Regions from separate parts of the Homo sapiens genome. Here region 2 is linked to region 1. The links come from fine-mapping of genetic effects on gene expression. A gene starts in region 1. The other region holds a variant in brackets. All regions are shown on one strand. Distances are from middle to middle. Region 1 holds the start of DNAJB5 (DnaJ heat shock protein family (Hsp40) member B5). Region 2 overlaps SPATA31G1 (SPATA31 subfamily G member 1).

Evidence for each region. PIP is the estimated chance that this variant, and not a neighbour inherited with it, causes the effect.
Region 2: its variant is the best candidate, but not a certain one, in a credible set for the expression of DNAJB5 in whole blood (INTERVAL, PIP 0.53).

The regions. Positions count from the first base shown.
Region 1 is chr9:34,986,381-34,991,748 of GRCh38, reverse strand. It overlaps DNAJB5 (DnaJ heat shock protein family (Hsp40) member B5), which reads right to left and starts at 2,004. Exons shown (of 5, transcript NM_001349723.3): 1 at 1,918-2,004; 2 at 937-1,250. The coding sequence starts at 1,118. DNAJB5-DT (DNAJB5 divergent transcript) reads left to right here and starts at 2,370. Exons shown (of 2, transcript NR_109756.1): 1 at 2,370-2,590. RefSeq lists enhancers at 1-889, 890-1,819, 2,374-2,583 and silencers at 2,101-2,249, 1,764-2,263.
Region 2 is chr9:35,045,249-35,050,616 of GRCh38, reverse strand. SPATA31G1 (SPATA31 subfamily G member 1) reads right to left here. Exons shown (of 2, transcript NM_203299.4): 2 at 4,631-5,368. The coding sequence ends at 4,748. It also overlaps the pseudogene RN7SL338P. Among named protein-coding and RNA genes, the nearest start is that of SPATA31G1, 5.7 kb to the right of the region's middle. The variant C/T (reference allele first, on the strand shown) is at 2,789.

The DNA of each region.
Region 1 (5,368 bases):
GTCACGTCTGTGGGGGAGATGGGGTGGGGGGTGGGGTTGGGAGAGGCAGAGAAGAAAGAGCACCTCGTTGGGGGGGGGGGCAACCGTTTTCGGAAATGGCAGCAAAAGCCGTCTGAGAGGGAGCGGGGGGGGGTGGTCTGCCATTTCTGCCTCAACCCACACCTTCTTTCCCCTGGGACTGGGAAAGAACCCTAGCACACCAAGAGGGTGCCCCTAGAGAACGAGAGCAGCTTCCAGGCAGAGGGCCAGTGGAACGGCTCACCAACCACCCACCTCCTTTTGGTGTCCCTGCATTACCTCCACACCCGGCCAGCTTCCTCCCTGGTACCCACCTGCTAGCTGCTCTAGGCCCATACATCTCTTGCCTCCGCAGACACAGGGCAAGCTCTTTCAGGATCTGCCTCCTTTTTCTCTTTCTGCTTTCCTCCCTCCTTCCCTTCCCCCCTACCCACAGGCCACGTGTTGGAATGACAAAGGAGCCCCATGGCATGGCACTGCCTTTGATGGAGAAGAATGAGGAGGATGTTAAGGTAGAGGCAGGAAGGAAAAATGGGGAGAAAATGGCGAGGGGGACTGTTGAGGTACAGGGAGGGGAGATGGCTGATACAGAAAATGAGGTACTGATGGAGGGGGATGAGTGACAGATGGAAATGGCTGAGGTGGAAAATGGGTTAATGATGGGTTGAAAGGGAGGAATGTGGAGAGTTGAAATAATGGAGGAAATGTCTGTGGAAAATGGATACCTGAAGGGTTTGAGAAAAGGAATGATAAGGGGTGCAATTCATTCAAATATGTGGGTGAGGCCGGAGGGGGGTTCCTGTATGTCACAGAGGGGATGAGGATGAGTTGGAGGAAGCAGGAAGGCAATGGAGGGGATGGCCGCGTGGAGGGTTTGACTGGGTATGGGTGTGAGTGCCCTTCTCCGGAGGGACTTACCGAAACTTTACAAACCCATTCAGCGTCCACGCTCGAAGTTTTAAGGGCTCCAGCTGAATTTTAAACATCAAGCTGGCTAAGAAGTCTTCTCCCCAGGAGTGTGGGAAGCTCCGGAAAGCTCCTCGGGCCTGCAGTGGGGGTGCTGCTGGGGGTGGGCAGGAGAGCACTGTGCGCTTAAACATGCCCAGCCAAGCCCCTCACCTCTGATCGCTCCACCGGAGCCGGCCTGAAGTGCTGCAGCTCTGGAAGCCACCTCCTTGGACTCTCAGAGGCGCGTGCCCAGCAAGGCCTGTCTGGCGCAGCAGGTGCCGGACCTGATCCCCAAATGTGGAGAGTGAAGGGAGAAGACCCGCGGCCACCTGCTCTCAGGTGCAGCAGTGTCTGGCTGGCTGTGAGCGGCTGTATGGCAGCGTGTCAGTGAGGCTGGGAGTGCAAGCGTGTGTTTGTGAGTGGCAGCGTGTATACCTGTGACAGGTGTGATTGTGAGGGCCCGAGAGGCAGTGAGCTCCTGTCGCCTCTCACTGGGGAGGACCCGACCCCAATCCCCAAGAACCTACTCAATGAAGTCACTGACGGGAGTCTCCTCCCTCGCAGATGGGCGGGGCAGAGCGGAGCTCGGCCGGGACAAAAGGCGCGGCGAGGAGAGGAGGGGAGGGGGCTCGGGCGGGGGAGGGTGGTCGGTGATGTCACCCGCGCTGGCTGGCTGGTCTGCTCACAGATGCCTCCGCCCCACAGAACCCAATCTGGTCCGGTCCGACTCGACCCTCCCCTCCCCTCCCCTCCCCGACTCAGACGCTGGCTGCCCCCTGTGACAGCCAAGCCCTGGTCTAGGACTCCGAGCACCCTGCAGACCCCGGGGCCCCGCATCCCCAAGGCAGCAGAGCCTACGGGCCCTCAGTGTCCCAACCCCCCAACACCAGGAGCCCTGGCTTCACGACGCCCCGCTCCCGGGACCCCCGAGTCCTGGCTTGGCGCCCTCACCGGTGAGGAGCTGCGGGCGCCGCCGTGGTCCGTGAGACAGCCGCTGCCCCCTCCCCCGGCTCCGGCTCCGCCGCCTCCACCCGGGACAGGAGTCGCCTGCCCGCCGGCCGCCGATAGCGGGACCGGGAGCCCGCCCCCACGGCTCCGCCTCCGCGCCGCCCATTGAACCGTCTTCCTGTCACTCAGCTCAGCCTCCACTGTGATTGGGCAGTTTTCAACAAGCGGCTTGGTGATAGCCGCCCATCCTCCGCCCCTGTCACCCGGCCACACGCGCACACATTCCAGGCAGTGATTGGTGTGGATCTGATTGGCGCCCTCTGGGATCACTCAACCACGCCTCTTTGCCATCTTGTCGTGCCATTGGTGAAAAAGACAGAGGGCGGCAACCTCGCTCGCCCTTTGATTTTATTGGTTCGTGCCTGAGACTCAGACCCGAGCCCGGGGGCAAACTATATTAGTCCAATCTCCGGGTTGAGAAGGTGGGACGTACTGGCCACTGCTCGAATCCCAGGAGAACCTTCTGGAACCCTTGCGACGTCAAAGGCAGCCTTAAAGGAAAACTGTACCCACCAGTTGGCCGTGCGGCCGTGCATTCTTTCCTTTCTTCATTGGGGGGCAAGAGGGAGAGAACAGTGCACTCTGGGAGGTGTAGTCCCTGGACCGGGGCCAAAAGGTCAGCACTTCTTACTCGCCTTTCAGCCAACGGTGTAACCACCTCAAGCTGACCTCATTTAGCTTTACCTTATCCTGACCCCGCGGTGGCCTGATGTGACCTAACGGAATCTCTAACAGACCCCACGGATGCCGGGTTTCAGAGCCCCCCGGACCTCTCCCCCGAGGGAAACGGATGGCTCTGCCCAGGCCGGTGCCTCCAGGAATCTCCCCCGCCCACCCTCTGTACAGCCCCTCATCCTCGCGCCCCTCTTCAGCGACCCCGCGGTCTCCATTTCAGTCCCTCTTCTAATCAGTCTCTCATCCTGCTTCCCCCTGGAGTGCCTGTGTTTTAGCCCTTTCCTTCTTGGCCCTAGATGATCTCCTGTCTTCCTTCCCGCAGTGATCCCTTTTGTCTTATTCTTGGTTCTTTCTTTACACCCCGATCTCCTATCCTAGCTCTCCCCTTTCATCTTTCATCTCACTCCCCAAGATCCCCTTCCTTAACACCCTCAGAATCTCTAGTCTCCCCCACCCCCCATTAAGTCATTAGATCTCAGCCCCAGTGTCCCCGATGCAGGGAGCAGGCGGGGCTGCGGAGGCGGTCGCCAGCGGAAGCCGCCACTCCAGCAGACACGGTGCCTGGCGCCCACGTCACTGTCTCCCAGGCCCATCTGTGCTCGAGGGAGCGGGGGTGGGGAGGGAGTAATTTGGGGGTGAAGTGGGGGAGGGGAGTGCTGGGGGGTTGATGATGATAGAAGGGTCAGGCCGGAAGCTCCCCTTTACTTCTTTCTTTCCTATTTTCCAGAGACAGAGTTTGGACACCCATGAGGTCTTGCTAGAAACTGCAGCTTGAGTACCTGGGCCAAGAGCAGAGCAAGGCGGGGGGGGGGTGCCAGGGTCCTGGAGTCATGTCTGTAGATTCTTCACTACCTACCTTCATGCCAGGAGTCACTATGGGGCTCCCAAGGGTAAAGGGGCATGAGGTGTGAAGGAAGAAAGAGACTTGGGGTGAAAGGAGGATGGAAAGGAAGTGGGGTTGGGGGCCAGGAGGGGAGCAGAGATGGGTGATGAATGTGGGGAAATGAGCATGAGGAATTTGAGGAAATGGGGTTGAGGGGGGGAGGTAGGGAGAGGGGGTGGTGAGAGGATGGTGAGATGGGGTGAGGGGGATGAGGAGGGGAGGGGCATGGGGCAGATGAGCCATAGGGTGGGAGTAAGGAGGGCAGAGGAAAGGAGGGCTGGGGAGGGGAGGGAAGGCAGGGTGGGGGATAAGGAAAGAAGGGCTGGGGAGGGGCAGGAAGGCAGGGTGAGGGATGAGGAAAGAAGGGGTGAGTAATGAAAGGATGAGGCACAGAGATGGGGTGAGGAGGAGTGAGGAAGGGGGAGGGGAGGGAGGAGGGATGGACATCTCTGTGTGACACAGAGATGGGTAAGGTGGGGTGAGGGGCCCTGCACCGCTGCTGGCTCCTCAGATCTGGGGGCTCTCACTCTTCCACCTCCACACCTGTGGGGCCCAGGCTGTGGGTGGCTCTACTTCTTCCTATTCCAGTTCTGTCTCTTTTGCCTCCCCCAGCCTTGCCTGTGCCAACACGGAGGCAGAGAGTTTAGTCACCAGCCTTTACCTGGCCCCTGCTAATGCTAAAGTGTAGGCTCGGACCTTTGAGGGTGCAGAACTGTGCCTTCAGGTGTTGGTGGCACAGACTCCACTGTTTGCCTAGTCCTCGGTTCCCGCCCTCAGTCCCATTGTCCTGGGTGTCACGTGTGTGTAGTGCTCAGTGTGGCATGGACTGTGACAGTGTGGTCTGGAGTCTATGCACCTTGTGAGCTTACACGCCACACTCATGCCTCATCTCCTTTGTAAATGGGGATTGGTGCCTCAGGGGGTTGTTGAGAGGGTTAATTAAGGTAACACAGGTAGTGCACTTAGTTCTGAGCTGGGCATGTAGTTTATACCCAACCAATGGTTAACTTGGTTAACTCAACCAAGTTAACCATTACTCTACATGTTCACAGATGCTGGGAGTGCGAGTGCATCTATAAATCTGTGAGTCTGGGAGTTATTTGTAGTGTGGTACTGGTAATGTGATTTGTGAGTGGATCTGTGCAGTTATTTTTGTGTGGTGGTGTGCCTGATTCTGTTATATGTTGTAGGTATATGATTTTGGGTCAGTGTACATGTGTGAGTAAATGACTGTGCGGGCATGTGTCTACATGACAAAGAGTGGATAAGGTATATAGGCACTGACACATTGACACCATGTCTGCCAGCGTATGCACGCATCTGCGATCATGCCAGTCCCAAACGCCCCCACTCACCCTCCCTCCCCTTGGAGACGTCATAACCCTAGGTGTCCCTCATTTCCTCACCCTGAGGGAACCGGAACCCGTGGGCAGGGGTGGGGGTGGGTGCCAGTGAGGAGGTGTTTTAGACAGAGGCACATGTTCCCTCCCAGACTGTATAGGGAAGGGAGCCCCTATCCTGCTCACATCCCGAAGGCTGCAGAGGAAGTGCCCCCAGCCTGTTTTCAGTTCCCTGTCTTGTCACCATGGTAATGGTTGCCAGGGGTTCCCATGGTTGCTAAGATCTGGGTGTGGGAGGCTGCCAGGCCCTGTTGCCAGTAGAAACAGAGAATCCTGGGGGGAAGGAAGACTACCCTCACAGCTGCCACCTCCCTGCAGTGACAGAACTGGCCCTTGGGCCACTTCTCTCCCCCAGTTGTACCTATGAGTTGTATGTGGTAGTACTAGTGTGTGTGTGGGAGCAGGAGCGGGGGCTTTAACAGGAAACCAGAACTAG
Region 2 (5,368 bases), 59 kb before region 1:
ACAGTGATCTTACCACTGCACTTCAGCCTGGGTGACAGAATGAGACCCTGTCTAAGAAAGAAATTGGTAAAAATATAAGCAAAATTAAAAAAATATTTCCAATAACCAGAGGTCATCACTGTTTTAATAACTTTAGTGCATATGTTTCTGGATCTTTTTTGTGTATGTGTACGTGTCTATACATGTGGTATTTTTAAACCCAAATTGAGATCATACTGCATTATAACTTTTTCGTTTTGGTCAGTATCTTTTTTTTTTTTTTTTTTGAGATGGAGTCTTGCTGTGTTGCCCAGGCTAGAGTCCAGTGGTGAGATCTCGGCTCACTGCAAGCTCCACCTCTTGGGTTCACGCCATTCTCCTGCCTCAGCCTCCCTAGTAGCTGGGACTACAGGCACCCACCACCAAGCCCGGCTAATTTTTTTGTATTTTTGGTAGAGACAGGGTTTCACCATGTTAGCCAGGATGGTCTCGATCTGCTGACCTCGTGATCCACCACCGCCTCGGCCTCCCAAAGTGCTGGGATTACAGATGTGAGCCACCGTGCCCGGCCTTGGTCAGTATCTTTACCTTTCCCTTTATGTAAATGTTCTTGGTTGAGCGTGGTGATGGTGGCTCATGCCTATAATCCCAGCACTTTGAGAGGTCGAGACAGGAGGATTGGTTGAGGCCGGGAGTTTGAGACCAGTCTGGGCAACAAGAGTGAGTCCTCATTTCTACAAAAAATAAAAAAAAAAGTTTGCTGGGCATGGTGGTACACAGCTGTAGTCCTAGCTACTCAGGAGGCTGAGGCAGGAGGATCACTTAAGCCCAGGAGTTAGAGGCTGCAGTGAGCTGTGATTACACCACTGCACCCTAGCCTGGGTGACAGAGCATGACCCTGTCCCTAAAAGCAAAATTCTAGAGGTCAAGAACCAAACTAGATACCCATACCATATTCGGAGTTTCCCCCAAGCGACCCAAATATCATTCACAGCTATTTGGACCAAACCAATATCTAACCTAGGTCCACAAGTTGGCATCTGTTAGATTCCTTTATTCAAACTTTGAAAAATAAGAGACAGGGTTTCGTTCTGTTGCTCAGGCTAAGAGTGTAGTGGCTATTTACGGGTGCTATATCGCTACTGATCTGTGCAGGAATTTTATCTGCTGTGTTTCCCACCTGGGCCAGTTCACCCCTTCTTAGGCACTGGTGGTCCCCCACTTCTGGAAGGTCACCATTATTGATGCCAAACTTAGCATCATTCGGTTCCCAATCGTCATGGCACACTACATCCTGGGCTCAAGGGATTCTCCTGCCTCAGCCTCCCAAGTAGCTGGGCTTATAAGTATGTACCACCACCCCTAGCCTTTTACTCAAACTTTTATGACACTTGTTGAAGAGATCGGGGCAGTTGATCTCCAGAGAATTGTAGCCATGTGCAGGATGGATTAGAAGGAATAGAGCAACCAATTTAGTGAGAAATAATGACTAAGACAATAGTGATGGTGGAAATGGAGAGGGGAAGATGGATTTGAAATACATTTCATAGGTATAATTGACAAGTTTTGTTTTGTTTTGTTTTGTTTTTTTGAGATGGAGTCTTGCTCTATTGCCCAGGCTGGAGTGCAGTGGCATGATCTCAGCTCACTGCAACCTCCGCCTCCTGGTTCAAACAATTCTTCTGCCTCAGCCTCCCAAGTAGCTGGGATTACAGGTGCACACCACCACACCCGGCTAATTTTTGTGTTTTTAGTAGAGATGGGGTACCACCCAGGCTGGTATCGATCTCCTGACCTCAAATGATCCTCCTACCTCGGCCTGCCAAAGTGCTGGGATTACACGCATGAGCCACTGAGCCTGGCTGACAAGATTTGGTGATGGCTTAGATCAGGGAGGAAGGAAGAGTCAAAGCTTAAGTATTTAGGTGGATGTCATGCATTTTGATAGGAATGGGCGTGTTGGAGGAAAAAGTTAAAGGGAAAATACGTTTTTGGACAAGTCAAATATGAGATAATGTCTGGTATGCTGTTGAATATGGGGACCTGAAGCCTAGAGATGCTTAGAAATGACTCATGTTTTTACAATACACCATATTTAATGGAATGGGCTCAAGACATTCTATTTTTAAAAAATGGTATTGGTAAATTGGACATGATTTTGGGGAAGGTTAGATTATCACCTCATACCATAAAAATCGGTAATCTAAAACATAAATATGCAAAATTATCAAAGTGCCAGGAGAAAATGTTTTAGAAGTCATGAAGTAAAGTGTTGGTAGATTTAACTACATAAAAAAATTTTTCTTTGATACAATAGAAGTCACCATAAAATTAGCCAATAAGATACAAATTGGAAGAAAATATTTGGAACATACATAATAGTTTGGGTCACTATCTCTGTAGGCAGGATCATGGCCCTCAAGATGCCCACGTCGTAATCCTTGGAACCTATGTATATATTATTTCACATGGAAAAAGGGGCATTAAGGTTCCAGGTGGAATTAAGGTTGCTAATCAACTGACTTCATTTATTTATTTAGAGACAGGGTCTTGCTCTGTCGTCAAGGCTGGAGTGCAGTGACATGATCTTGGCAACCTCCGCCTCCTGGGTTCAAGCGATTCTCCTGCCTCAACCTCCGGAGTAGCTGGGATTACAGGCACACATACCATGCCAGGCTAATTTTTGTATTTTTAGTAGAGATGGGGTTTTGCCATATTGGCCAGACTGGTCTTGAACTCCTGGCCGCAAACGATCCAGCTGCCCTGGCCTCCTGAAATGCTGGGACTGTTAAGGCATGAGCCACTGCTG[C/T]GCCTGGCTATCAACTGACTTTAAATTGGAAGGGTGTCCTGGATTATTCAGCTTTGTCCAGTGTAATCATAAGGGTCCTTAAAAGTGGAAGAGGTAGGGTCGGGCGCAGTGGTTCATGTCTGTAATCCCAGCACTTTTTGGGAGGCCGAGGCGGGTGGATCACTTGAGGTCAGGAGTTTGAGACCAGCCTGACCAACATGGAGAAACTCCATCTCTATTAAAAATACAAAATTAGCCAGGCGTGGTGGCGCATGCCTGTAATCCAAGCTACTCAGGAGGCTGAGGCAGGAGAATCACTTGAACACAGGAGGCAGAGGTTGCAGTGAGCCGAGATTGTGCCATTGCACTCCAGCGTGGGTGATAAGAGTGAAACTCTGTCTCAAAAAAAAAAAAAAAAAAAATGGCTCACGCCTGTAATCCCAGCACTTTGGGAGGCCAAGGCGGGCGGATCACGAGGTTAGGAGTTCGAGACCATCCTGGCTAACATGGTGAAACCCTGTCTCTACTAAAAATACAAAAAAATTAGCCCGGCGTAGGTGGTGCACACCTGTAGTCCCAGCTACTCGGGAGGCTGAGGCAGGAGAACGGCATAAAACCTGGGAGGCGGAGCTTGCAGTGAGCCGAGTTCGTGCCACTGCACTCCAGCCTGGGAGACAGAGCGAGACTCCATCTCAAAAAAAAAAAAAAAAAAAAAAGTGGAAGAGGGAGGCAGAAGAGGTCAGAGTGATACAATGTGAGAAGAACTTGACTTGCCTTTGCTAGCTTTAAAGATAGAAGAAGGGGGTCAGTAACCAAGGAATGTGGGCAGCCTCTAGAAACTGGGAAAGGCAAGGAGTGAATCCTACCCAGAGCCTAGAGAAAAGGATGTAGGCCTGCCAACCCCTTGATTTTAGCCCTGTGAGACATGTGTCAGACTTTTTTTGCGGGGAGGAGACAGGGTCTCTTTTGCCCAGGCTGGCATGTAGTGGTGCAGTGGCTCACTGTAGCCTTGACCTCTCTGGTTCAGGTGATCCTCCCACCTCACCTTGCCCAGTAGCTGGGACTATAGGCATGCACCACCATGCCCAGCTAATTTTTGTGGTTTTTTTGTTTTTTTTTTTTTGTAGAGACAGGGTTTTGTCATGTTGCCCAGGCTGGTCTCAAACTTCTGGGCTCATGCTATCAGCCCATCTCAGCCTCCCAAAGTGTTGGGATTACAGATGTGAGCCACTGCACCCAGGCTCCGTGTCAGACTTCTGACAAAATAAATTTGTTTTGTGGTAATTTGTTACAGCAGCAGTAGAAAACTGTAATACATTGACTAATACAATGTCCAACAAATAGTGCATTAGAAAATGGGTAGAGGATATGACCCGGTGATTATAGAAATCCAGACGGTTACTAGACGTATTAAAAGACACTTGTTTTCATGGCCTTGGAGATGGATGAGCTGACCCAGGGAGAGAAAAGAGCAGAGGGCTGAGAAGAAATGGTCAGAAAGATACGTGGAGAACTTACAGGTCAAGTGGATGAAGAAGAGAACAATACCCAGGACAAAGCACAGTTGCCTAGACTCAGATGACCTGTGCTCGTGTGAATGGATGTAGTTTTTTGTTCACATGCTGTGAAGTCGTTCCCTCTCAAGGGCGGCTTTGGGCTATGCTGACCTGGCCCTGTAGCCTCACCCTATAGAGTAGGGATGTGTGGACTCCAGATGTGATCATCTGTGAAGATCCACAAAAGAGTTAAGCCTGCAGAATCCTGAGTGCTCTACTGGGACTTGAAACTGAGGGGCTATGGCTGTAGCAGAATTGGGAATTGACATTTTCAGTACCCTAGATTCCAAAGAAGACATGAATGGGATTTATCTAATTCAGCTAGTTTATTAGAATTTCCATTTCTTGTCTCCACATCCCCACCTTCCCCCTGGTTTGGCTTCAGGTCTTGGCATACCAAGTGCTAGTATTACCAGCCTTTTCTCTACTGACTAGATTTGGTGGGTAGGGGTCGATGGTTATCCAGGCATTTGGCTAACACCTTTTGCAAACCCCTGGTAAGGGAAGCCTTGAGGGTAGGGAAGGAGAGATACTTCTCCATGTGGGCCCAAGGACAGTGCTTACAGTGGCGAGGGGTCAGGATGTCACTTGCTCTTCGCCCTGCCTCTGGCTGATCCTGGGGACCCGAAGCTTTGGGGAGAAGCAGCTGGGGAAGAGCAGTGTGTTGAGAGCTCTGGCCCCTGTGTTGAGACCTTTGGGGAAATGTGCTTACAGGGGCCTCTACTAGGCTTCTGGCCTGGGCAGGGTGGTTCTTCCCTGTGACTGTGGATAACCCCAACCTTGCAGTCCCTCTTCTATGGTCTCCTGCTTTGGGTTTCCTAGGGTGCTCTCTCTTTTTGGCTGAGGATGAGGCTGAAGCCTTGTCCTTTCTCTTGCCTGAGACCAGAACCTTAGAGTTTGAGGGTTCTCCTGGGCCTGGAGATAGATAGTCCACACCAGCCTCCATGTGTACACATGGCCCTTGGGATGGGACCTGGCTCACCATCTTCCCCTTCATTTTCTCCCCTCTCTGAGACCCTTGTTCCGCCCTGCCAGACTCCTGTGG